2 separate regions of the Homo sapiens genome follow, and region 2 is linked to region 1. The links come from fine-mapping of genetic effects on gene expression. A gene starts in region 1. The other region holds a variant in brackets. All regions are shown on one strand. Distances are between the middles of the regions.

Region 1 (11,595 bases):
GGAGGAAGGGCCATGAGCCAAGGAGAGCAGGTGGCCTCTTGAAGCTGAGAGGGCGGGGGTGGATTCTCTCCCAAGAAAACGCAGCCCAGCCAGAGCCCTGACGTGAACTTCTGACCTCCAGAGCCACAGCATGAACTTGTGTTAAGTCACTAGGTTCGTGGTGATTTGTTATGGCAGCCCTGGGAAACTGGTACAGAGGGACATGGGTTCTTGGGCCAGGGCCCTGCCCCCTCCCTGCCCAGACCCCGCCCCCTCCCTGCCCAGCCCCCCAGCCCCCAGTCTCCCTGCTGCTGGGCTGGATGAGAAAGGGAGGTCCCTCTATGTTCACTCTTGAGACTGACAGCATGCGTTGGGCTCTGAGACGGGGCCCAGGGTGTCTTGGCTGTGACCATCCGCCCGTTGGCACCGCTGACTTGCCTGGCTCAGACTCGACTTGGCCTGGGAATCTGGCTGGCTCTTGGCTGGCATCCAGCTCCTCCCCAGCTGAGGCGTCCTGGAGCCTGGGACACCTCTGGGAAGCTGGGTGCGGTTGGCAGGAAGCCCGGGGACTGGATCCTGGATCTGTACCGCCCAGCTGTGTGACCTTGAGCTCGAGCCTCATGTCGCAGCTGCAGGCTTTCGTACCTCGGGGGGCTGTGACAGGGCCCACCGTAGACAGCTAAGCACGATACCCTCTCTTCCTGCTCAGAGCCTGAGTGGGTGCCAGGAGAAAGCCCTCTGTGAGCTGCTGGGAGTGGTGTTGGGGATGGTGTGAGGTGGTGTTGGGGTGGTGGTGGGGGTGGTGTGGGGGTGGTGTGGGGGTGGTGTTGGGGGTGGTGTTGGGGGTGGTGTTGGGGGTGGTGTTGGGGTGGTGTGGGGGTGGTGTTGGGGGTGGTGTTGGGGTGGTGTGGGGGTGGTGTTGGGGGTGGTGTGGGGGTGGTGTTGGGCCTTGTGGTGGGTGGTGGTGGGTGGTGTGGGGGCGGTGTTGGGTGGTGTGGGGGTGGTGTGGGGTGGTGTTGGGTGGTGTTGGGGGTGGTGTTGGGGGTGGTGTGGGGGGTGGAGTTGTGGGTGGTGTTGGGGCTTGTGGTGGGTGGTGGTGGGTGGTGTGGGGGTGGTGTTGGGTGGTGTTGGGGGTGGTGTTGAGGGGGTGTGGGGGTGGTGTGGGGATGGGTACTGGCTGATGGGCTTCTCTGTTCTTGTATTGGCCCCTCTCTGGCTTCTATAGCTGCGGAGACACTCACAGCTCCCGTGCCTTTGGGCAGGTCAGGTGAGAGCCCCAGGAGAGTCTGACTGGGCTTTCTGCTTCCTCAGGGGCAAGGATGAGGGACCCAGCTGCTGGCAGGGCCCAGGACCCTGGGAGAAGAGACAGGACCCCAAGGCTGGGGCAGGCCCTACAGCCAGTGGCTTCAGACTGCACGCCAGGAGGTGGTGTGGGCCGGGAGGGGTGGGGGTCTGTCCACTCAGAGCTGTGCAGGGCTTTAAGGCATCAGTTTGAAGGAAGCATTTGGCGAACTCAGGTTACGTCGCCCAGTGTTTCTAAGTCGGGTGTGGTTAACGAGGTTTCTTTGGATCATGAGGGTCTGGGGCTGGCTCAGGTGGGGCATGTGCTATGTTCACACATACAGATGGCAAGTGAAGAGTGGGGTCATGAGAAGTGTCCTGATGGCCACAGCTCCCATTTGTCGAGCACTTGCTCTCTGCCAGGCACGGGGCTGTAAGCCCTGACACGTGGTGCTCCAGCACTCTGGAGGATCCTCACTGTAGCCCACAAGGAGGGCTCTCCTAGGACTCCCGCTGGACGGAGCCAAGTGAGAGGTGAAGGGGCTTCCAGGGTCATGGAGCTGGGGAGGGCTGGGCCTTAGATTCGAAGCAGGCAGCCTGACCCCTGCACTGTGCTCCAGTGGGGCTGTAGGCGTGCGTGTTCGTGTGCACACATGTGCATGTGTCAGTGTGAAAATGCAAGTAACAGACACCCCAAATAACTAGCTTCAACACAGCAGAAATTTATTTCCCACCCAGGTAAGGGGACCCTGAGGTAGGCAGTGACTTCTGTCGGCAGCGAGCTAGGCCCCTCTCACCAGGCTGCCCTACCGTGCTCAGTGCTGCCTCATGGTGCAAAGTGGTTGCTGAGCTCCAGTCATCACTTCAGCCAGCAGAAGGAGGAAGGAGAAGGAGAAAGACGTGACCCCACCATCTAGGGCATTTGCCTTCCGACCCCCCAGCTAGGCATTGTGTGTTTTATTAATAAGGAAAAGAAGAGAACAGTTAGCGGAGGCCTCCCGCTGTCCACCAGGATGAACTTGGCAGGCCGGACAGGACTCTGGGCTTCCCAGTTAATGGAGTGTTGAACTGGTGGGGATCTAGGGGTTCTTTAAGTCTCACTCTGTACTTCTCAGAAGGGGAAACTGATACCCAAGTCAGTGGCTGAGCTGTGGCCCAGGCTCGGCCTCTGCCTGCTGTCCCAGAGCTCTGTCCTGGCACCAGCTACTGGTGAAGGCAGAGCTTGCAGCAGTCACAGCCCTGCCAGAGGACACCCTGGGGACCCCCCTGTAATGGGCCACCCACCTTCCCGGCTCTGCTACCCAGTCCTGCTTCCTCTGCAGGAAGCTGCAGGCCCATTCTGCCCCCTCCCTGGCACAGGGTAGCCTGTCTGACACCCCCAGATCCATCCATGACACCCACTAGGCTGAGGGCTTGGGGACTGGAGTCTAGAGGGCAGGCCAGGATGAGGCTGGAAAAATTCCATCTCATCTACTCCTCTCCTTTCATCAACTCCACCCCTCCACTGCTCTAGCCTGCTTTAGCCTCTGCTAGAGCAGAGACAGGTATTCCCAGCCTCAGGCGCTGTCCTAAGCCCAGCAGGTACTGACCCTAGATGGTCACCTCAAGGTGACAGGCACCCACCCAGCATCTGGCCCTTCCCCATCCAAGGCTGCAAGTTCACTTTCCAAGCCAGGGTCTCCCATAGCGGTGCTCACGCCATAGCCAGACAGGCCCCGCTGGCCCCATCCTCTTCATACTTGGTGCCTGTCCCCCCAGCCCCCCCCCGCCCCGCCCCTCCGCATGTGGCCTCACCCCAACCCACCTCCCTGTGCCCTCTCATCCTCAGCGCGCCTCTCCCACTGTCCCGCCTCCCCCAGGCCCGTCTTTCCTGGGGGCGACGACAGCCTCCCTCCAAATCCCCTTCCCTCCAGACAGCGGAGAGGCCGACCTGGGGAAGGGCAGGGTGGGCCCGTGTGACCGCTGCAGATGGAGGAATTCCCATGGCAGAAGTTAAGGGTGAGGACTGGGTGTGGGGGCCCCCAGGTGTGTGGTGGGTATCATCTCTGCCTGGCTGTGCTGATGGGGATCCCCAGCCCCCATGAGGGCTGCAGGTCCTGGGGCGTGGCAGCCGAGGTCTGGACCCAGCGCCCACGTGCGGCAGTCTTGCTGCTCACAGGTGGTGGAGAAAGGACACCAAGGACACAGCCGGGAACTGAGGAAGCAACCGGGCCGGGGGGCCTGCGCTGGCTGGATCGCCCAAGACACTCCAAATCCATTCTCCAAAGCTGGTGCAGGGGCAGGAGGGGAAGGTACCAGACAGAGTGCTGGCAGGGCCGGGGGTGAGCCGGGTGGGGGTGGGGAGGGGCCGTGGGTCAGGGTCTCCTGGCCCCCATTGCTCCAAGGCCGGCAAGGAGGTTGAGCAGGAGGGCTGCGCCCACAGTTTCGGAGCTGCCCCGGGGGCCGCCTGCCCCCTTGCCTGTTGGGTCCTGGACTCGGGAGCTTTGCCAGGGTGGGACATTGCACAGGCTGGACTGGCAGCAGGTCATGGTCACCTGGGTCCCCTCCACCGTCTTGGTGATGGGCTGGCAGCTGTCTGTGCACCACGTGGAGTGGGTGGTCAGGAGGCCTGACTCTGGGAAGGGGAGTGGGGAACAAGTGCTGAGGATGGGCGGGGTCTCTGAGGTGGCTCTGCAGGGCTCTGTTCCGGGCCCCTGGCTTTCCCGCCGCCTGGGGGTGCATGTGCTGCGGCCCCACGCCCACTTACCGGTGTTCCCGTGGGCAATGAGGGTTGTGCAGGTCTGGCCATGTGAGCAGTTCTGCGTCAGGTTGCAGCGCTCGTCCCTGGGCAGGGACTTGCAGGTGTAGCACCGCAGCAGCACTGGGGACAAGGCGGGCTCAGGCCGAGGCCGGGCCCCCCAGGGTCTCCTCCCACGTCCCTGTCCACCTCCCCGTTCTCAGCTGTGCTCCCAAAGCCTAGCCTGGTGAGCCTCCAGCACCCACTGCTCAGATGGGCGGGCGACCCCTGACTTGGTCCTGTAAGCTGTGCTGTGTGCGTGAGCCTGTGTGTTTAGGGGGCAAGGGATTGCGGGTCAGGCAGGGCGAACTTCCCATCATCACTCACGTCCTGCGACAATGCTGCCCAGGCTCCTGCCGTGGTCACAGAAACCTGGAGGTGGGTCTGACTCAGTCCTGCCTCCAGGAGCACCAGGCCTGGCAGAGGAGGGCCTCACAGGGGACACCTCGTGGGTGTGTGGGGCAGGGCTCGTGCTGAGGGCAGGCTTGGGGCTCCTGGGAGGGGGGTGGGCTGTGTGTGGTGGGGCATGCTGGGGGCCCTGGCTAGGGAGGGGCTGTGTGTGGTGGGGCACGCTGTGGTCCCTGGCTAGGGAGGGGCCGGCCCTCGGGTTGGATGCGGCGATTTGCTCTGCTTTTCTCGGGATGGGAGAGAGCAGAGGGTGGCCCACGTGTAGGGGTGTGTCAGGTGGGCAGTGAGGGTGGGCTCTTCTTAGCCCTACTCTGCTCTGCTCTAAGCGGTTCCCTGGCTCCCCAGCCCGCAGCAGCCAATCCAGCCCTCCCCTGTACAGGACCGGCCCACCCTGCTGCTCTCTCTGCCCCACAAAACTGAACCCTACCCTGGGGCCTCTGTGCTTGTGTCTCCACCCTAGGCCCCCACTGAGCCCTTCTCTGCCTGGTGAACTCCTATTTAACCTCTACATCCTGGCACCACTGACCCTCCCAGCTGGTGGCTTCTTCCCCTGTTCCCTACTCTGGAAGGCAACTGAGTGTCATGGTGAGCAGCAGTGAGGGGTGTACTGAGTGTCCCCCACTCTGCTGGAGGCAAGCTCACAGCAGGACTGTGGCCTGCTGGCTTCCATCACACAGCCCCGCCCAGAATGCTCCAGGCAGATCAGGCAGCAGGGCTCTGGGGTTGGGGCGGCCATACCTCTGCTCCTGCCACCAGGGAGCCTGTTGGTCTCCTCCTCTTCCACCTCATCCTCATCTTCCTCGTCGTAGTCATCTGGCCCGTGGTCCTCGTCCTCTTCCTCTTCCTCCTGCTGTGTCTGCCCTCTCCCTGGCCGTGCAGGGATGCTTGTAAGCCTCAGCTACCCGGGTATGGAGGACACCTGCTCTGGGCAAGCATCGTGCCCCCAACTCCTTGGCCCTCCCCAGCCATCCTCGGGCCCCAGGGTGGCTGGGGAGGGCCCCTACCCTGAACACCCTACTCACCCTACTCACTGTCCTGCAGCCTACTCACCCTACTCACTGTCCTACTACCCTACTCACCCTACTCACTGTCCTGCAGCCGAGTGTGCCCTGGCATTGTAGTTACAACAGCAGCTGCTGTGGGCTGGCCCTTTATGGTAGCCCCTCCCCGCACCCCACATAAACAGGGGCGCAGATATTTGGGGACTCTCGGGGACCCAGGCCAGCTTCCATCCATGCTGCTCTGGGCTGGGGACTCCAGCCTCATCCCCTCCTTCTTCCTAAGCCCCTGCTGGGGGTCCCTGGAGGTCCCTGTGCTCCAGGACTGCTGTTGCTGCCCCCTCACCGCAGGGTTACCCTTTGCCCCGCACCTGGCCGCCCGAACAGCAAGAGGGCAAGCAGGACAGCCCCGAGCGCCTTCATCTCGCCGGACGCTGCTGTGTCCCTGACTCTGAGTCCTCCCGCAGGGCTCTGGAGCTGCGGTAAGTGGGATGAAGGGCATTGCCGTGGGCTTCCTAGTGGCCCCCACCAGCTCCAGCCTCAAACAATGGGCCTCACACTGGTCCCCAGCTCCAGGCGCCAGGCCAGGGACTGTTGTTTCCCTCCAGGACATCTGGGGCCAGAGGGGAAGGAGAAGTCATTGTGGTTGGCCTTGGAACGTCCTGTGCACCCGTGCCACGGCAGGTGGAAGGTGGTGCTGGCCCTCGCCTGGCTTGCCGCTCAGTGCCTCAGCCCTGCAGTGCAGGGCAGGGAGCCTCGCCCCGGAATGGGCCATGCCTGACACCCCTCAACCCCATGTCTGGGCTCCATAGTCACAGGACCTTGGGGTCACAGACCCTCTATTTGCTGGTCACTGGCCAAGCATCGTCATCCTAGAGTCAGCATCACACCCAGGCCCCTTTAAGAGCATTTAAGTAAAAACACAGTCAATGCCCTCAAGCTAAGGCTGCGTGCTCACCTCCTCCTCACCCACACTCAGCAATGCACTGCTAGGCCCAAGGCCTCCCGGCTGCCCCTCACTATCACCTCGGGTCTTTGCCCCTGCTGCTCCATCTGCAGTGCTGTTCCTGCTGGTGTCCGGTGGAGAGCTTTCTGGAGCTCTTGGGGGCCCGCCCCCTCGGTCTCTTGCTGGGAAAGCCATCAGCACCCACCTGCCTTCTGGCCTTGTGTGAGAGACGGGCTGCTCTGGGAGAGGCTTGGAAAGCCCAGGTCGCTCCCTGAGGCCACCCCCTCCTCTCAAGACCCCACCCAAGCCCTTGGGGGGTGCTGATGCAGAGTGCAGAGTCGAGGCTCTGAGCTGCCCCTCTCCCAAGGGCAGCAGAGGGGTGGGGCAGCGGCAGGGGCTGGACGTCCGGAGCCAGGGTCAAGCCTGAGCGTCTCTGTGTGCCTTGGTGCTTGGGCCAGGCACTTCACCTACTGAGGCCTCAGTTTCCCCGACTGTCAATGGGTGGGGTGGGGCATTTTCTGGCCGGCCACCTGTAACAGAGGTTGAGTTGGTTCTGGAGTGAGCTACCTGGGTTTAAGACCCGGTTCCTCCTTCCCCCGGCTGTGGGTTCTGGACTAGCCCCTTGGGTTCCCCAGGCCTCAGCTCCCTCATAGGGTGAGGTGACCATCAAGGGTCAGTACCTGCTGGGCTTAGGACAGCGCCTGAGGCTGGGAATACCTGTCTCTAATGTCCCAGCCACCGAGTCAACCATCCTTCCTTAATTCACCTGAACCTGTCATTCTTTCCACTCTACCGGCACCCACCCAGCATCTAGCCCTTCCCCAGCCAAGGCTGCAAGGTCACTTGCCAAGCCAGGGTCTCCCATAGTGGTGCCCACGCCACAGCCGGACACGCCCCGCCAGCCCCAAACTCTTCATACCTGATGCCTGTCCCCCCCAGCCCCGTCCCGCCCCGCCCCGCCCCGCCCTTCCCTGCCCCTCCGCGCGTGGCCCCACCCCCACCCGCCTCCCTGCGCCCTCTCGCCCTCGGCCCGCCTCCCCCACGCCCCGCCTCCCCCACTGCCCCGCCTCCCCCACTGCCCCGCCTCCCCCACTGCCCCGCCTCCCCCCACGCCCCGCCTCCCCCACTGCCCCGCCTCCCCCACTGCCCCGCCTCCCCCCACGCCCCGCCTCCCCCACTGCCCCGCCTCTCTCACGCCCCGCCTCCCCCCACGCCCCGCTTCCCTGGTGCCCCGCCTCCCCCACACCTGTCTACCCCATGCCCCGCCTCCCCCACTGCCCCTACTTCCCGTCGCCCCGCCTCCCCATCGCCCCGCCCCCATTCGCCCCTTCTCCCCAGCGTCCCACCTCCCTGTCGACCCGCCTCTCCTGTGCCCCGCCTCCCCCGTGCACCGCCTCCCGTCATCTTCACCCCTCCTCCCCCACGCCCCGCCTCCCTGTCGCCCCTCTTCCCTGGTGCCCCGCTTTCCTGCTGCCCTACCTCCCCCGCGCCCCGCCCCGGCTACCGCTACAGGCCCTTGAATCTAGTGCTGCAGGAGCTGCTCCTAGGAAGGGCGCTACTGGGATTCTCAAGGGGCCTCCACCTGCCGCCTCCCCTCCACAGGGGCCCAGGCCCTTGCACGTTGCCTCCCTCTGGGCCCAGCTCCTCTTCAGCCCAGGTGCAAACTGCCCAGCCCAGGCAAGTGCTTATTGCGAGAATCACCTAGGGACAATCAGAGCACATTTGATTCGCAGATTGAATTAAATTTAGTGCTCGCCACTGAGAGGCTGTTCCCTCTGTCCCGCCCCGGAAAGGCTAGTGGGTCTGGTCCAGCCCCTACAGAAGGTGCCACCTGGGATGGTGCGCAGGTGTGAAAGGGGACCCGCAGTGGCAGACACCTGGTTCCCCAGCACTGCCTACAGCCGGCAGGTAGGCGTGGTGGGCTCTGTATGTGGAGCCCACCCCCTCATCCCACCCAGGCACCACGCAGCCTCCCTCAAGCCCCCAGGGCAAGGTCATGACCTCTCAGACACTCCAGGGTGAAGATATGATGCCTAAGACCTTCAGGGCAGGGCTGTGGTCCCCCAGGGCCAGGGCTAAGGTCTGGTGGTCCTGATGGCAGCTGCATGGGTCATTTTCGAGCCTGCACCTGCGCCCCTGGGCTCAACCGCCTTTCCAGGCCCAGGCTTCCTCCCTGAGCCATGCGCACACCCCAGGGCACCGTTGAAGGGCAGCCCGGCCACCCCCGCTCCCTGCCCACAGACCTCTGTGCCTTGGGGCCTGGACTTGCCTGCTCTGCTGGCTCGTGGGGCTGGCCCTTCTGACACAGCGGTTCTCTGGGCCTCCTCTCACGGTGGGGCCTGCATGACTCACGTGGCTCTTTTTGGCAGCGGCAGCCTTGGGCTCAGAGCTTGGTGCTGGTTGTGGACAGGGGATGCCTGGCCATCCACACTCCATCCTGCCTAGGTGACATGTGGGGGCGGGGCTCGGCAGGCAGGGTCCATGCTGGCATCATGCCCAGGTGGGGCCATGGGCTCTGCTGTCCTGGGGGGCTGTGTGGCCCTGTCCTGGGCCTGCGCGTCCTACTCTGTACGCCCTCCCCCGTGTTGACACCAGCTCGAGTCAGATCCAGACCTGTGCACTGCCATCTCTGGGAGGCAGCCTGCCGTGAGATTGGGTTTGGAATGAGGGAGGCGTTGGGAGGAGGGCACCTTGGGGCTGGGCCTGAGGGGTGAGCAGAGTTTTTCTATAAGGAAGGGTGGGCAAGTGTTTCTGACTGAGGGGCAAGTGTAGGGTGTCCATACCGGGAGAGTAGGGCCTTTTGGGGCAGATGCAGACTGCAGATGTGCTGGCCCTTGCAACACTTTCCCTGCTCTGAGCTCCTTCCTGCCCTCTCTGCAGCCAACCTTCTCTTGTCTCACTGAACCTGAGTCTGGCAGAGGGAGGGGCTTGTTTTTAGAGCAGAGTCCAGACTCTCCTCCCCTGGGGTTACTCTCCGCTTATTTTTATTTATTTATTTCTTTTGTTGAGACAGAGTCTCACTCTGTCGCCCAGGCTGGAGTGCAATGGCAGGATCTTGGCTCACTGTAATGTTCGCCTCCGGGGTTCCAGCGATTCTCCTGCTTCAGCTTCCTGAGTAGCTGGGATTACAGGCTCGCACCACCACGCCCAGCTAATTTTTGTATTTTTAGTAGAGACAGGGTTTCACCATGTTGGCCAGGCTGGTCTTGAACTCCTGACCTCAGGTGATCCACCCGCCTCGGCCTCCCAAAGTGCTGGGATTACAGGAGTGAGTCGCTGTGCCCGGCTCTCTCTGATTCTGATGACCCCACAGTGCCAGGCTGAGCAGGCTGCCCACCATGTGCACTGAGGTACAAGCCCTTTTTCTTTCCTGGGATCCAGCACTCAGAGGTAGCTGTGGGTGGGCGGGCCGGCCAGGGGGAGCAGCTCCCACGGGTCCTGCAGCTCCCAGGCACCCCTAGAACCCACGAGGGAAACACATCCTGGTTCCAGAAGCTCGTTCATTAACTCGTTCACGTGTGGTTCACTCAGGTACCCTCCCTGGCCTCCCAGCTCCCCTCCATGCTGCTCTGCACCTGGAACCCTCTATGCTCCATTTCCTAGTCCTTAGACACCCTCAGCCCCACCACCATAACCCTGGAGAGTCTCCTTTCCCTTGCTCTTCCAAGGGGGTCCCTCTTGTCCCCCACTTGTGAGGGTGACTGATCTCTGTCTAGCTCCGCTTAGCAGAGCTTCAGATGGTCCTTCAAGCTCCCACCCCCGCTGCCTCCTGCCACTATCCATCTTCGATTTCTAGAGGCAGGGCCCAGGCACCATCCTCTCCAGAGACCTTTCTCCACAGCGGCACTCCTGTACCCACCCCTAGCTCGGTGCCCTCGGAGGGATTCAAGGCTTGGCTTTAACATCCCCCTATGGCCGTACTGGGTCCCCCTCTTGGAAAAATGCAAGAGCAAGGAATACATTGTTCCTATCATTTATTTTATCCGTTTAGAAATCAATCTCCTTCACAGTGAGATTGTTAAAATGTTAAAAACAATGTAGCAATTTCACAATATTGAAAGAGACTAAAAATAACGATGCAGGGATACTTTGCAGCTGTATGACAGTGAAGAAGCTCTTTACATCCTGATCAGAAAAACAGGAAGCGGAGGAAGCCGAGGACTGAGTGTCCCAGCACGTTGCTTTCTGCAGGAACAGGAGAAGGCAGGATCTGCGCCTGCTGCTGTGTGTTCATATGGAGACTGCCCGCTGGGCTCGCCTTCTGTCAAGGTCCACGTTTGGCCACTGATCTGCAGGGCCATGTCTTCTGCTCAAGCCGACCCCTGGGCCCTGCCACCCAGCAGAGGCCTGCGAATGAGAGGCCTGGGGCCCTGCAGTCCCTGGAAGGCAGGAACTTGATGGCTGAGCTCAGGGTGGGATCTGTGTGTGGGTGGGTGAGCGGCAGGCACTCACCCACAGCGGCGGGGAGAGGGTGTGTGGAGGGAGAGCAGCTACCAGAGAAGCCAGAGAGGTGCAGCCCAGGGCAGGCAGGAGCCCCCCCAGGCTATGGCGTGGGCCCCCAGCCTTGGGGGTGGCACAGGGCCTCCTGGCAGCCTCTGCACATCAGGACCACGTCACTGGGATGTCCCACTCAGACTCCTGGCAGGCATGGAGGCAGAACTTCCAGTGTTTTCCACAGTGGCCCCACTGGAGGGGCAGGGGAGAGGATAGGAGGTTAGGTGGGGGAAGCAAGGAGGAGGGGAGGGAGGAGGCCACGGGAGGTGGTCTTGGGTGGGGCCTCCCTCTGCCCGCAGGTGGTGATGGGCAGCTGACCACCTGCACCAAGTGTCGAGGTGGCTCTAGTGACTATGGGGACGCAGGGCCTCCCGGGCCACCGCAATGGCTTTCTCACAGTTGGTCCTTTGGATCCAACTGGATTTGGGGTGTGAGGTGGGTGAGGAGAGGCCCCAAGCTCGAGGGCCAGGATGCAGTGAGCCCCAGGGTGGGATACCCTGATGATATCCAGCCACCTGCTGGAAATGGTACCCAACCTCAGAGCCTCAGCCTTCCAGGGAGACACAGTGGGTCCCGGGCAGCCACACTCCAGGGAGACACAGTTGGTCCCAGGCAGCCACACTCCAGGGAGACACAGTTGGTCCTGGGCAGCCGCACTCCAGAGCCAGCCTGCGATCCCCGGCAGCCGCACTCCAGAGCCAGCCTGGGGGCCC
Region 2 (11,595 bases), 240 kb before region 1:
TAGAGATAGGGTCTTGCTATGTTGCTCAGGCTAGTCTTCAACTCCTGGCCTCAAGTGGTCCTCCTTGGCCTCCCAAAGTGCCGGGATTATAAGTGTGGCCCTACTATGCATTCTTGATCGATTTACTCTTTTATTATTATATAATGTTTCTGTCTCTGATGATTTTCTTTGCTTTGAAGTCATCTTTTTCTGATATTAATATAGCCACGCCTGTTTTCTTTGAATCAAGTTTTCATGTCTTTTTTTCTCTTTTTACTTTAAATGTATATATGTGTCATATTTGAAGTGACTTTCTTGTAGACAGCAGATAGTTCAATCATGTTTTAAAATTCACTCTGCCAATCTCTGTCTTTTAGTTGATATATGTAGGACATTTACATTTAATGTGGTTATTGCTATATTAGGGCTTAAGTGTATCATTTGATTTATTTTGTTTTCTATTAGTTCTTTTTTTCCCTGTGGGTTTTCTTCCCCCTGCCTTCCTATGGGTTACTTGAACACTTTTTAGAATTTTTATTTGATTTACTTATAGTGTTTTTCAATATAGATCTTTATTCAGTAGTCTTCCCTTCTCTGTGGGGGATACATTCCAAGATCCCTCATGGATACCTGAACCCATAGATGTCATGGAACCCAATTCCATCATTTGGAACATGTTTCTATTATCTTCCACCCACAAATCAAACGCTTTTTTAAGTCTTTTTTTTTTTTTTTTTTTTTTTTGAGACAGAGTCTCACTCTGTCGCCCAGACTGGAGTGCAGTAGTGTGATCTTGATCTTGGCTCACTGCAACCTCCGCCTCCTGGGTTCAAGCAATTCTTCTGCCTCAGCTTCCTGAGTAGCTAGGATTACAGGTGTGTACCACCACGCCTGACTAATTTTTATGTTTTTAATAGAGACGGGGTTTCACCATGTTGGCCAGGCTGGCCTTGAACTCCTGACCTCAAATGATCCACCCGCCTAGGTCTCCCAAAGTGCTGGGATCACAGGCATGAGCCATCACGCCCGGCTGCCTTTTTAAATCTTAACTAAACGTTTATCACACACTGTAGCCCTAACTTTTGCAGTTTGCAGTGTGACAGCAAAATTAACATTAATTTCTTTTTTTCTTTCTTCACAATTTCTTGGATAGAAGATTCATTCTTACTGTAGATCTCAGCAACCTCAGAATATTATATTATTATTATTATTTTGGGGAGGGGGGGCAGAGTCTCGCTCTGTCACCCAGGCTGGAGTGCAGTGCAGTGGCACAACCTCTGTCCACTGCAACCTCTGCCTTCCGGGTTCAAGCGATTCTCCTGCTTCAGCCTCCCAAGTAGCTGGGATTACAGACACGCGCCACCACGCCTGGCTAATTTTTGTATTTTTATTTTTATTATTATTTTTTTGAGATGGACTCTAGCTCTGTCACCTAGGCTGGAGTGCAGTGGTGCAATCTTGGCTCACTGCACCCTCCATCTCCTGGGTTCAAGTGATTCTCCTTTTTCAGCCTCCTGAGTAGCTGGGATTACAGGCCCCCGCCACCACACCCAGCTAATGTTTGTATTTTTAGTAGAGATGGGGTTTCACTGTGTTGGCCAGGGTGGTCTCGAACTCCTGACCCCCTGATCCACCCGTCTTGGCCTCCCAAAGTGCAGGGATTATAGGTGTAAGCCACCACGCCCAGCCTATTTTTTTTTTTCTGAAGTTGAGAACTTTGACCTTTTTACCTAAAGGAAGCATTTTACAGCTTCTCTTATCCAAATTGTTAGCATCACTACTGTTGCACTTTGGGGCCATTTTTTATGAAAATAAGGGTTACCCGGACACAAGTGCTGCAGTACCACAAGAGTCAGTGTGATGAGGGAGACAGCTACTAAGTGACTAATGTTAGGTCGTGTATACAGTGTGGAAAAAGGAATGATTCATGTCCTGGGCAGGACAGAGCATGACGGTGCAAGATTTCATCACACTGCTCAGAATAGCATGCACTTAAGCATTTATGAATTGTTGGCTGGGCGCGGTGGCTCATGCTTGTAATCCCAGCACTTTGGGAGGCCGAGGCAGGTGGATCATGAGGTCAAGAGATCGAGACCATCCTGGCTAACACGGTAAAACCCTGTCTCTACTAAAAACACACACAAAAAAAATTAACTGGGCATGGTGGCAGGCGCCTGTAGTCCCAGCTACTTAGGAGGCTGAGGCAGAAGAATGGCGTGAACCCGGGAGGCGGAGCTTGCAGTGCAGTGAGCCGAGACTGCGCCACTGCACTCCAGCCTGGGTGACAGTGAAAGACTCCATCTCAAAAAAAAAAAAAAAATTATGAATTGTTGGCCAGGCACGATGGCTCACACCTATAATCCCAGCACTTTGGAAGGCCAAGGTGGGCAGATCACCTGAGGTCAGAAGTTCAAGACCAGCCTCGTCAACATGGTGAAACCCTGTCTCTACTAAAGTTACAAAAAAAAAAAAAATTACCTGAGTGTGGTGGTAGGCACCTGTAATCCCAGCTACTTGGGAGGCTGAGGCAGGAGAATTGCTTGAACCCGGGAGATGGAGGTTGCAGTGAGCCGAGATCACACCACTGCACTCCAGCCCTGGGCAACAAGAGTGAAACTCCATCTGGGAAAAAAAAAAAAAAAAGAAAAAGTTATGAATTGTTTATTTCTGGAATTTTCCATTTAATATTTTTGGACCACAGTTGACTTCAGGTAACTGAAACTGCAGAGAGTGAAACAGTGGAAAGGGGAGGACCACTATATAGCTTTTGTAGTGCTTACCTTGGGTATTATATTATATTTGCATGACTGATCCACGTCTGCTGGTGGTGTCGTTTTGCCAGTTTGAGTGAAGTGTGGAAACCCTACCTTCCCTCATCTCCCTTAACCTCCCCTTTTATAACCATCTGGAATACTTCCTCTACAGAAGTTAGAACCACAACAGACACAGTTATAATTTTTATTTCAGTCATCAAACATAATTTTAAAAACTGGGGAAGAGATGGAAAGTCTGGTATGTTTATCCATATTTTTGCTTATCTTGTTCTTTATTCCTTCCTGTTGTGCCAAGCCTTTTTCTTTTGTTTCCTTTTTGTTTGGAGAACTTTAACCACTTTTTAGGGTAAGACTGCTGGTGACATTGTTTTTCTTCATCAGAGAATGTCTTGATTTCCCCTTTATTCCAGAAGGATAATTCACTGAATATGGGATTCTGTGTTGACAGTTCTTTCTTTTGAGCTTGAAGAATGTTATGCCTCTTCCTTATGTCCTCCATGGTGTCTAGTTAGAAATCCACTGTTGTTTGAATTTTTCCCCAGTGGGTAAAATGTGGTTTCTGTGGGGTGCTGTGACTCGTTCCTGTAATCTCAACATTTTGGGAGAACCAGGTGGGCAAACTGCTTGAGCCCAAGAGTTTGAGATTAGCCTGGTCAACATGGCAAAACCCCATCTCTTTAAAAAAAAAAACAAAAAAACAAAAATTAGTCACACATGGTGGCATGCGCCTGTGGTCCCAGCTACTCAGGTGGCTGAGTTGGGAGGATTGCTTGAGCCCTGGAGGTCGAGGCTGCAGTGATCTATGATTGTACCACTAGGCAAGAGAGTGAGACCCTGTCTCAAAAAAACAAACATAATGTAGTTTCTCTCTGGCTGCTTTGAAGATTATTTCTTTGTCTTTAACTTTCACTGTCTGACATCTGGGGTAGATGTCTTTGGTCTATCCTGTCTGACATCTGGGGTAGATGTCTTTGGTCTATCCTGTCTGAGGTTTGCTCAACTTCCTGAATCTATAGGCTTATGTGTTTTACCAAATTTGTAAAGTTTGTATTATTTCTTTGAGTTCTTTTTGCTCTGTTTCTGCATCTCCAGTTACATGAATGTTAGGTCTTTTGTTGTGGTCCCAAGGTCCCGAAGGCTCTGTTCATTTTTTAAACCTTATTTTCTTTCTGTTGTTCAGATGGGTTAATTTCTGTTATTCTGTCTTCCAGTTCTCTGTCTCATCCATTCAGCTGTTGTGCCACACACTGAGTTTTTTATTTCAGTTATTGTATTTTTTAGTTCTAAAATTTTCATTTGGTTCTACTGTATCTTCTTTTTCTCTGTTGATACTTTCTATTTCTTCTGTTTCCAGCATGTTTGTATTGCATGTAGAAGTGTCTTTGTGATGCTGTTCTGTCTTTATGAAATAATTCTGACGCCCTGTCTGTCAGCGTTGGCGCTGCCCCTCTTCACCGAGCTTGGAGCCTCCCTTGTTCTTAGTGTGAGCAGCCACTTTCTGTGGGAGCCTAGTCATGCTGGCTGTTGGGTGGAGGGGCTGCCTCCTTCTTGCCAGCTAGGAGTGGAAACCCAGCTCCCTGCACTTGGCCTCATTGACACTGTGGAGGGTGGTGTGGAAAACAGACCTTCCCTGAACCTTCCCTCCCTGCCTTGGGGGAAGGAGTTCCACAGTGCCTCTTCCACATGGCCTCCACTGACTCCGTGGGGGATGGAGAAGGGGTGAATGTCCTGGCTTTTCACCACCCCGGCAAGGAAGGGAAGGGCCTCCTGGCCAGGGTTGAGTCCAGGCTCCCTCCTCAGCCTTTGCTGATCTGGCTGGGGGTGCAGTGGTTTTGCGTGTTGGCTGGAATAGATGGCTGTTGCCCGAGACCTTCTGTCTTGCTGGGCTGCCCTTTGCCTGTGCCTCTGGGCATTTCTGGGCTGTGGCTTCCTTGACTCCAAGTCTTGGATGGGGCAGGAAGCAGCCCAAGGGCACCCAGCACCAGTCGTGCCCCGATCCCTTCCATCAGCACCTTCTCCGCAGCCAGAGGTGGCTTGGGTTTGTTACGGTGGCACTTAGCGGGAAGTACAGGGATGGTAGGTTGGTACTTTGGGTCTGTGTTCCAAGCAATGCAATGCAAGCTCCTCCTTTTTTCTTTTCTTTTCTTTTCTTTTTTTTTTTTTTTTAGGCAGAGTCTCACTTTGTCACCCAGGCTGGAGGGCAGTGGTGTGATCTCAGCTCACTGCAACCTCTGTCTCCTGGGTTCAAGCAATTCTCCCACCTCAGCCTCCCAAGTAGCTGGGATTACAGGTGTGCACCACCATGCAAGGCTAATTTTTATATTTTTAGTAGAGACAGGGTGTCACCATGTTGGCCAGGCTGGTCTTGAACTCCTGGCCTCCCAAAGTGCTGGGATTACAGGGGTGAGCCACCGTGCCCGGCCTACTTCTTTTTAATGCCAGTTTTGGCTTATTTTCCCCCAGAAGTGGATCCGTTTTACTGAGGTTTTCAACGTATGGGTGCATGTCGGTGTGTCTACAACATCCTTTGTCGCGTCTAGAGTTTTTTTCATCTGTATTTAATTTGCGTTTTCTCACTTGTTTCTGGGAACAGTCTTGCCAGGGGCATGTCTGTCTTATTGCCCTTTTCAGACAACCAGCTTTTGGTTTTGCTAGTGTTCTTTGTTGCTTGCTCCTTTTCTTTTTCATTGACTTCTGTCATTGCTCTTTATTATTTCCCTCCTGCTTTAGGTTTTC[C/T]CCGGGCTCCTGTCCTGCTTCCTGCCTTCTGCTCTGGGAGCACCTGTTCCCGTGTCTGTAGGTTTTGGGTTCTGGCTGATGTGCTTTGAGCTCTTGGCCTCCCTCTCAGGAGCCCCTCCCTGCTGTCCTTGTGGGCACCCGCAGTCCCCCACAGCAGCCCCACAGGCCTTCTCTGGTGGTTTGTTCACTGGTCAGGGTAGAAAGCATCCAGTCACTTACTGTGTTTAATATACTTGTTATTATTTTAGATTTACCAAAAAGTTGCAGACATATCACAGAGAGTTCCCATACACCCTCAGCCAGCCTCCCCTGCCAGGAGCGTCCTGCAGATCCACAGCTAGCAGTGTGATGTGCTTTGACCTGTGTCCCTGCCCAAATCTCATGTCGAATTATCATCCCCGATGTTGGAGTTGGGGCCTGGTGGGAGGTGATTGGATCATGGGGATGGTTTATAATAGTTTAGCACCATCCTCCAGTGCTATTCTTGTGATGGAATGTTCACAAGATCTGGCTGTTTAAAAGTGTGTAGCACCTCCTCCCTCTCTCGACCTCCTGCTCCAGCCCCCTCTCTCGACCTGCTCAGCCGCGTGAAGTGCCTCGCCTCCCCTTTGCCTTCTGCCACGATTGGAAGCTCCCTGAGGCCTCTCCAGAAGCAGATGCTGCCATGCTTCCTGTACAGCCTGTGAACTGTGAGCCAATTAAACCTCTTATCTTCATAAATTACCCAGTCTTGACTGGGTGCAGTGGCTCACACCTGTAATCCTAGCACTTTGGAAGGCCGAGGTGGGTGGATCACTTGAGGCCAGGAGTTCAAGATCAGCCTGGCCAACATGGCCAAACCCCATCTCTACTGAAAATAGAAGAATTAGGTGGGCACAGTGGTACATGCCTGTAATCCCAGCTACTTGGGAGGCTGAGGCATGAGAATCGGTCGAACCTGGAGGTGGAGGTTGCAGGGAGCTGAGATTGTGTGACTGCACTCCAGCCTGGGCAGCAGAGTAAGACACCGTCTCAATAAAGAAATAAATTACCCAGTCTGAGGTATTTATTTACAGCAATGCGATAATGGACTAATATAGAAAATTGGTACTGAGGAGTGAGGCATTGCTATATAGATACCTGAAAATGTGGAAACAGCTTTGGAACTGGGTAACCCACAGAGGTTGGAAGAGTGTGGAGGGCTCAGAAGAAGACAGCAAGATGAGGAGAGTTTTGAACTTTCTAGAGACTTGTTAAATTGTTGTGACCAAATGCTCAGAGTGATATGGACAGTGAAGTCCAGGCTGAGGAGGTCTCAGATGGAGATGAGGAACTTATTGGGAACTGGAGCAAAGGTTACTTTTGTTATGTGCTAGCAAAGAGGTTGGCTGCACTATGTTCCTGCCATGGGGATCTGTGGAACTTTGAACTGGAGAATGATGATTTAGGCTATCTGGTGGAAATTTCCTGGGTTTTGTTTTGTTTTGTTTTGTTTGTTTTTTTGACATGGAGTCTTGCTCCAGGCTGGAATGCAGTGGCGCAATCTCAGCTCACTGCAACCTCTGCCTCCTGGGTTCAAGCAATTCTCCTGCCTCAGCCTCCCAAGTAGCTGGGGTTACAGGCATGTACCACCACACCCAGCTAATTTTTGTATTTTGGTAGAGATGGGGTTTTAGTGGAAACATAGTTTCACCATGTTGACCAAGCTGGTCTTGAACCCCTGACCTCAGGTGAGCCACCCGTTTTGGCCTCCCAAAGTGCTGGGATTACAGGCATGAGCCACTGTACACAACCAATCTGGTGGAAGTTTCTAAGCAGCAAAGTGTTCAAGGTGTAGCCTGGCTGCTTCTGACATTCGGTGCTCATATGTGTGAGCAAAGAAATGACCTCAAGCTGGAACTTATATTTAAAAGGGAAATAGAGTTTGGAAAATTTGCAGCCTGGCCATGTAGTAGAAAAGAAAAGCCCATTTTCAGGGGAGGAATTCAAGCAGGCTATAGAAATTTGTGTGACTAAAAGGAAGGCAAGTGCTAATAACCAAGACAATGGGGAGAAAGCCTCAGAGGCATTTCAGAGACCTTCATGTCAGACCCTCCCATCACTGGCATGAGGCCTGGGAGAACTGAATGGTGTCCTGGACCTGGCCCAGAGCCCCACTGCCCTGCACAGCCCCAGGATCTGCGTCCCTGTGTCCAGCCAGTCCAGCTCCAGCTGTGGCTCAAAGGGGCCAAGGCACAGCTCTGGTCACTGCTTCAGGGGGTGCAAACCATAGTAAGCCTTGGAAGCTTCTACGTAGTGGTAAGCCTGCAGGTACTCAGAGTGCAAGAGTTGTGGTTCAGGAGCCTCTGCCTGATTTCAGAGGATACGTGGAAAAGCCTGTATGTCCAGGCAGAGGCCTACTGCAGGGGTCAAGCCCTCATAGAGAACTTCTGCTAGGGGGAAATGTGGCATTGGAGCCCCCACGCAGAGTCTCCACTGGGACACTGTTTAGTGGAGCTGTGAGAAGAGGGCCACTGTCCTCCAGACCCTGGAGTGGTAGATCCACCGACAGCTTGCACCATGCACCTGGAAAAGCTGCAGGCACTCAGTGCTGGCTCTTGAAAATAGCTGTGGGGGCTGAACCCTGCAGAGCCATGGCGGCGGAGCTGGCTGAGGACTTGGGAGCCCTCCCCTTGCATCACTGTGCCCTGGATGTGAAATGTAGAGTCAAAGGAGATGATTTTGGAGCTTTAAGATTTAATGACTGCGTTGCTGTGTTTTGAACTTGCATAAGGCCTGTACCCCTTTCTTTTGGCTGATTTCTCCCTTTTGAAATGGGAGTATTTACCCAATACCTATGCCTCCATTGTATCTTGGAAGTCACTAACTTGTTTTGATTTTATGGGTTCATAGGTAGAAAGGACTTGCCTGGTCTCTTTTTTTTTTTTTAGACAGAGTTTCAGTCTTGTTGCCCAGGCTGGAGTGCAATGGTGCTATCTTGGCTCACCGCAACCTCTGCCTCCCAGGTTCAAGCGGTTCTCCTGCCTCAGCCTCCCTAGAAGCTGGGATTACAGGCATGCCCCACCACGCCTGGCTAATTTTTTGTTTGTTTGTTTGTTTTGTTTTTTGAGACAGAGTTTCACTCTTTTTGCCCAGGCTGGAGCGCAATGGCACTCTCTCAGCTCACCGCAACCCCCCGCCTCTCGGGTTTAAGCAATTCTGCCTCAGTCTGCTGAGTAGCTAGGATTACAGGCATGCACCACCACACCTGGCTAATTTTGTATTTTTAGTAGAGACAGGGTTTCCCCATGTTGTCCAGACTGGTCTCGAACTCCTGACCTCAGGCAATCCACCCGCCTCAGCCTCCCAAAGTGGTGGGAGGCATGAGCCACGACACCCGGCCATCCCTGCCGGTTACTAATGGCTGAGCACCATCCCCCGAGTCCTGTTCTTGTGGTAGGCTTCTCATGACATCTGGTCAGTTAAAAGTCTGTAGCATCTGCCCCGCTCTCTCTCGTCCTCCTGCTCGGCCGTGTGAAGTGCCTCCCTCCCACTTCACCTTCTGCCATGATTGGAAGCTTCCTGAGGCCTCCCCAGAAGCAGATGCTGCCATGCTTCCTCTACGGCCTGTGAACTGTGAACCAGTTAAACCTCTTTTCTTTATACATTGCCCAGTCTCAGGTATGTCTTTATAGCAGTGCGAGAATGGACTCATGTACCATCTCGCTGTCAGAACTGAGACATCCACTTTGGTGTGGTGTAACTGTCAACTCCAGACCTTATTTAGATTTCCTCAGTTTTCCCTGATGCTGTTTTCTGTTCCAAGATACTACATTCCATGAAGTCACTGATTTTGGAATGCAGAGGAGCGTGAGAAAGATGGAGAGCGTGGATAGAAGTGTCTGGAACACGTCCTCCAAGGTGGCTGGTGGTGGTAGAGGGGGCAGCTTTGATTTTGGACAGTGGGAAGGAAGCTGGCAACTCTGCTGGGGACAAAGGGTGCGTCACAGCCATCAGAGGTGCTGCTGGCTGTGGGGTTAGGGCCTCACCCCCAGGAGAGAACTAAGCAGGGCTGGGTGCTGTGGTAGGGCAGGGGCCCCTCAGGCCCTGGGCTGAATCAGCACAGGTGGTGAGGGAGCTGCTGTGGTCAAGCCAGCTGGGCAAATCAGCCTGCTCTTGGCCAAGGAAGAGAGCGCCGTGGAGCCTGGCCCAGTCCCTGTGCCCTTCATGTCAGCTCCGCAAGCACAGGCCGGAAGAGTCTCCCTATGGACCATGCTCCCAGGGCCAGGCTGGCTTGGGGAAAAGGTGACCTGGTGCCTGGGAGATTCACCTGAGGCTCTCCACTGTCTTGGTGCTGATAGAAAAGGCAGACGACCAATTAGTTATCTGAAGACAGTTCTCCGGTTGCGGGCCCCAGTCCAGGCCCCAGAGGGCCCCCTGTGGGAAGCAGTGCCTCAGTGCATGGCCAGGCAGTGTGGACATTGGCTTAGCTGGAAACATGAGCCCACCCAGGCCACCTGGCCTGTCACGCTCGGCAGCTTGGACGGGCCTCTGTGCTTTCTGTGAAGGCTGTGTTCAACCTTTTTTTACTTTTTGACCATTAGAAGGATTAAAAGCTGTCTGATATTTTAAATTGGTATTTCTCTGATGTAAACTGAGGTGGAAAACCTTTTCCCATGTTTCTAAGGCCTTTGTGTCTTCGCTTCTGGAAAATCTTTTTGGTGATTTTTGGAATCTTTTTGGTGAGGGTGAGGGTGTTTTTCTTTTGGGTTGTTTGATTCTTACTGACTCAGAGGGAATTTATAAACATAAACAAACATAAAAATACATATAATGTCCTGGACTTTAATCTGTTAGTCACATGTCTTCTCTGTTTGTGGTTTATCTTTGCATTTCTTTGTGACGTGTTGAAAATCAGAAGTTCTTGATTTTAACGGACATAGTTTTATAGTTTTCTTTACATTTTGCACCCTTAGTGTCTTGAATAAGAAATTCTTCTCTACACCAGATTGTGCTCAGTTGCCTCTAAATATTTTGTTGTGTTTACCTTTCACATTGAGACTTTCATCCAGCTGGAGGTGATTTTCTTGTGTGGTGTGTGCGGTGAGGTCCAGTTTCATTTTGCCACAGCGCCTGGCCTCGAAAAGCCCATTGTTTCCAGCGGGTGTGCGGTGCAGCCCTCCCTCCTGTCGTGAGGTCTGCGTGGATGCGGGCTCTGCTTCTGGCTCTCTGTTTGTTCATTGGTCAGTTTGTCCCTGAGCCAAACCATGCTCTGAATTATTTGAGCTTCATAATAATAAAGCAAGTTCTTTCACCTTGTTCTTTTTTAGAACGAATTTCAGCTATTCTTGACCATTATTCTCCCAGAAATACATTTTAGATTTTTCTTGTCAGGTTAAAAAAAAGTTGGAATTTTGATTGGGATTGTCTTGAATCTGTAGCTCGGTTTGGTGGAATGGGCATCTGTCCCCAGAGCAGTGAGCTGCCAGCCTGTGGGGATGGCATCTGTATTTCTTCAGTTAGACCCTCCCTTTTAATGTCTTTTTTTTTTTTTAAGAGACAGAGACAGGGTGTCACTGTGTCACCCAGGCTGGAGTGCAGTGTTGTGATGATAGGTCACTGCAGCCTCCAACTCCTGGGCTCACGTAATCCTCCTGCCTCAGCCTCTCAAGCAGCAGGGATTATAGGCACATGCTATGACACCTGGCTAATTTTGTTTTTTTTTAATCTTTTGTAGAAACAGGGTCTTGCTGTGTTGCCCAGGCTGATTTCGAACTCCTGGTCTCAAGCAATCCTCCCACCCTCCCGCCCTGGCCTCCTACCTTTAATGTGTTTTAATAAGGTTCTTTATTATCTTTTTTTTTTTTTTTCTTAAGACAAAGTTTCACTGTTGTTGCCCAGGCTGGACTACAATGGTGCAGTCTGGGCTCACTGCAGCCTCCACCTCCCAGGTTCAAGCAATTCTCCTGCCTCAATCTCCTGAGTAGCTGGGATTACAGGCATGTGCCACTATGCCCAGCTAATTTTGTATTTTTAGTAGAGACAGGGTTTCTCCATTTTGGTCAGGCTGGTCTCCAACCACCGACTTAAGGTGATCCGCCTGCCTTGGCTTCCCAAAGTGTTGGGATTACAGGCATGAGCCACTGTG

Evidence for each region.
Region 2: its variant is fine-mapped to the expression of GPIHBP1 in stomach (GTEx, PIP 0.98).

What each region holds. Positions count from the first base shown.
Region 1 is chr8:143,207,538-143,219,132 of GRCh38, reverse strand. GPIHBP1 (glycosylphosphatidylinositol anchored high density lipoprotein binding protein 1) reads right to left here and starts at 5,915. Exons shown (of 4, transcript NM_178172.6): 1 at 5,814-5,915; 2 at 5,183-5,311; 3 at 4,007-4,120; 4 at 1,963-3,874. The coding sequence starts at 5,865. The coding sequence ends at 3,615.
Region 2 is chr8:143,445,107-143,456,701 of GRCh38, reverse strand. The region is part of intron 9 of ZC3H3 (zinc finger CCCH-type containing 3); the gene reads left to right. Among named protein-coding and RNA genes, the nearest start is that of MAFA, 20 kb to the right of the region's middle. RefSeq lists an enhancer at 6,769-7,063. The variant C/T (reference allele first, on the strand shown) is at 5,490.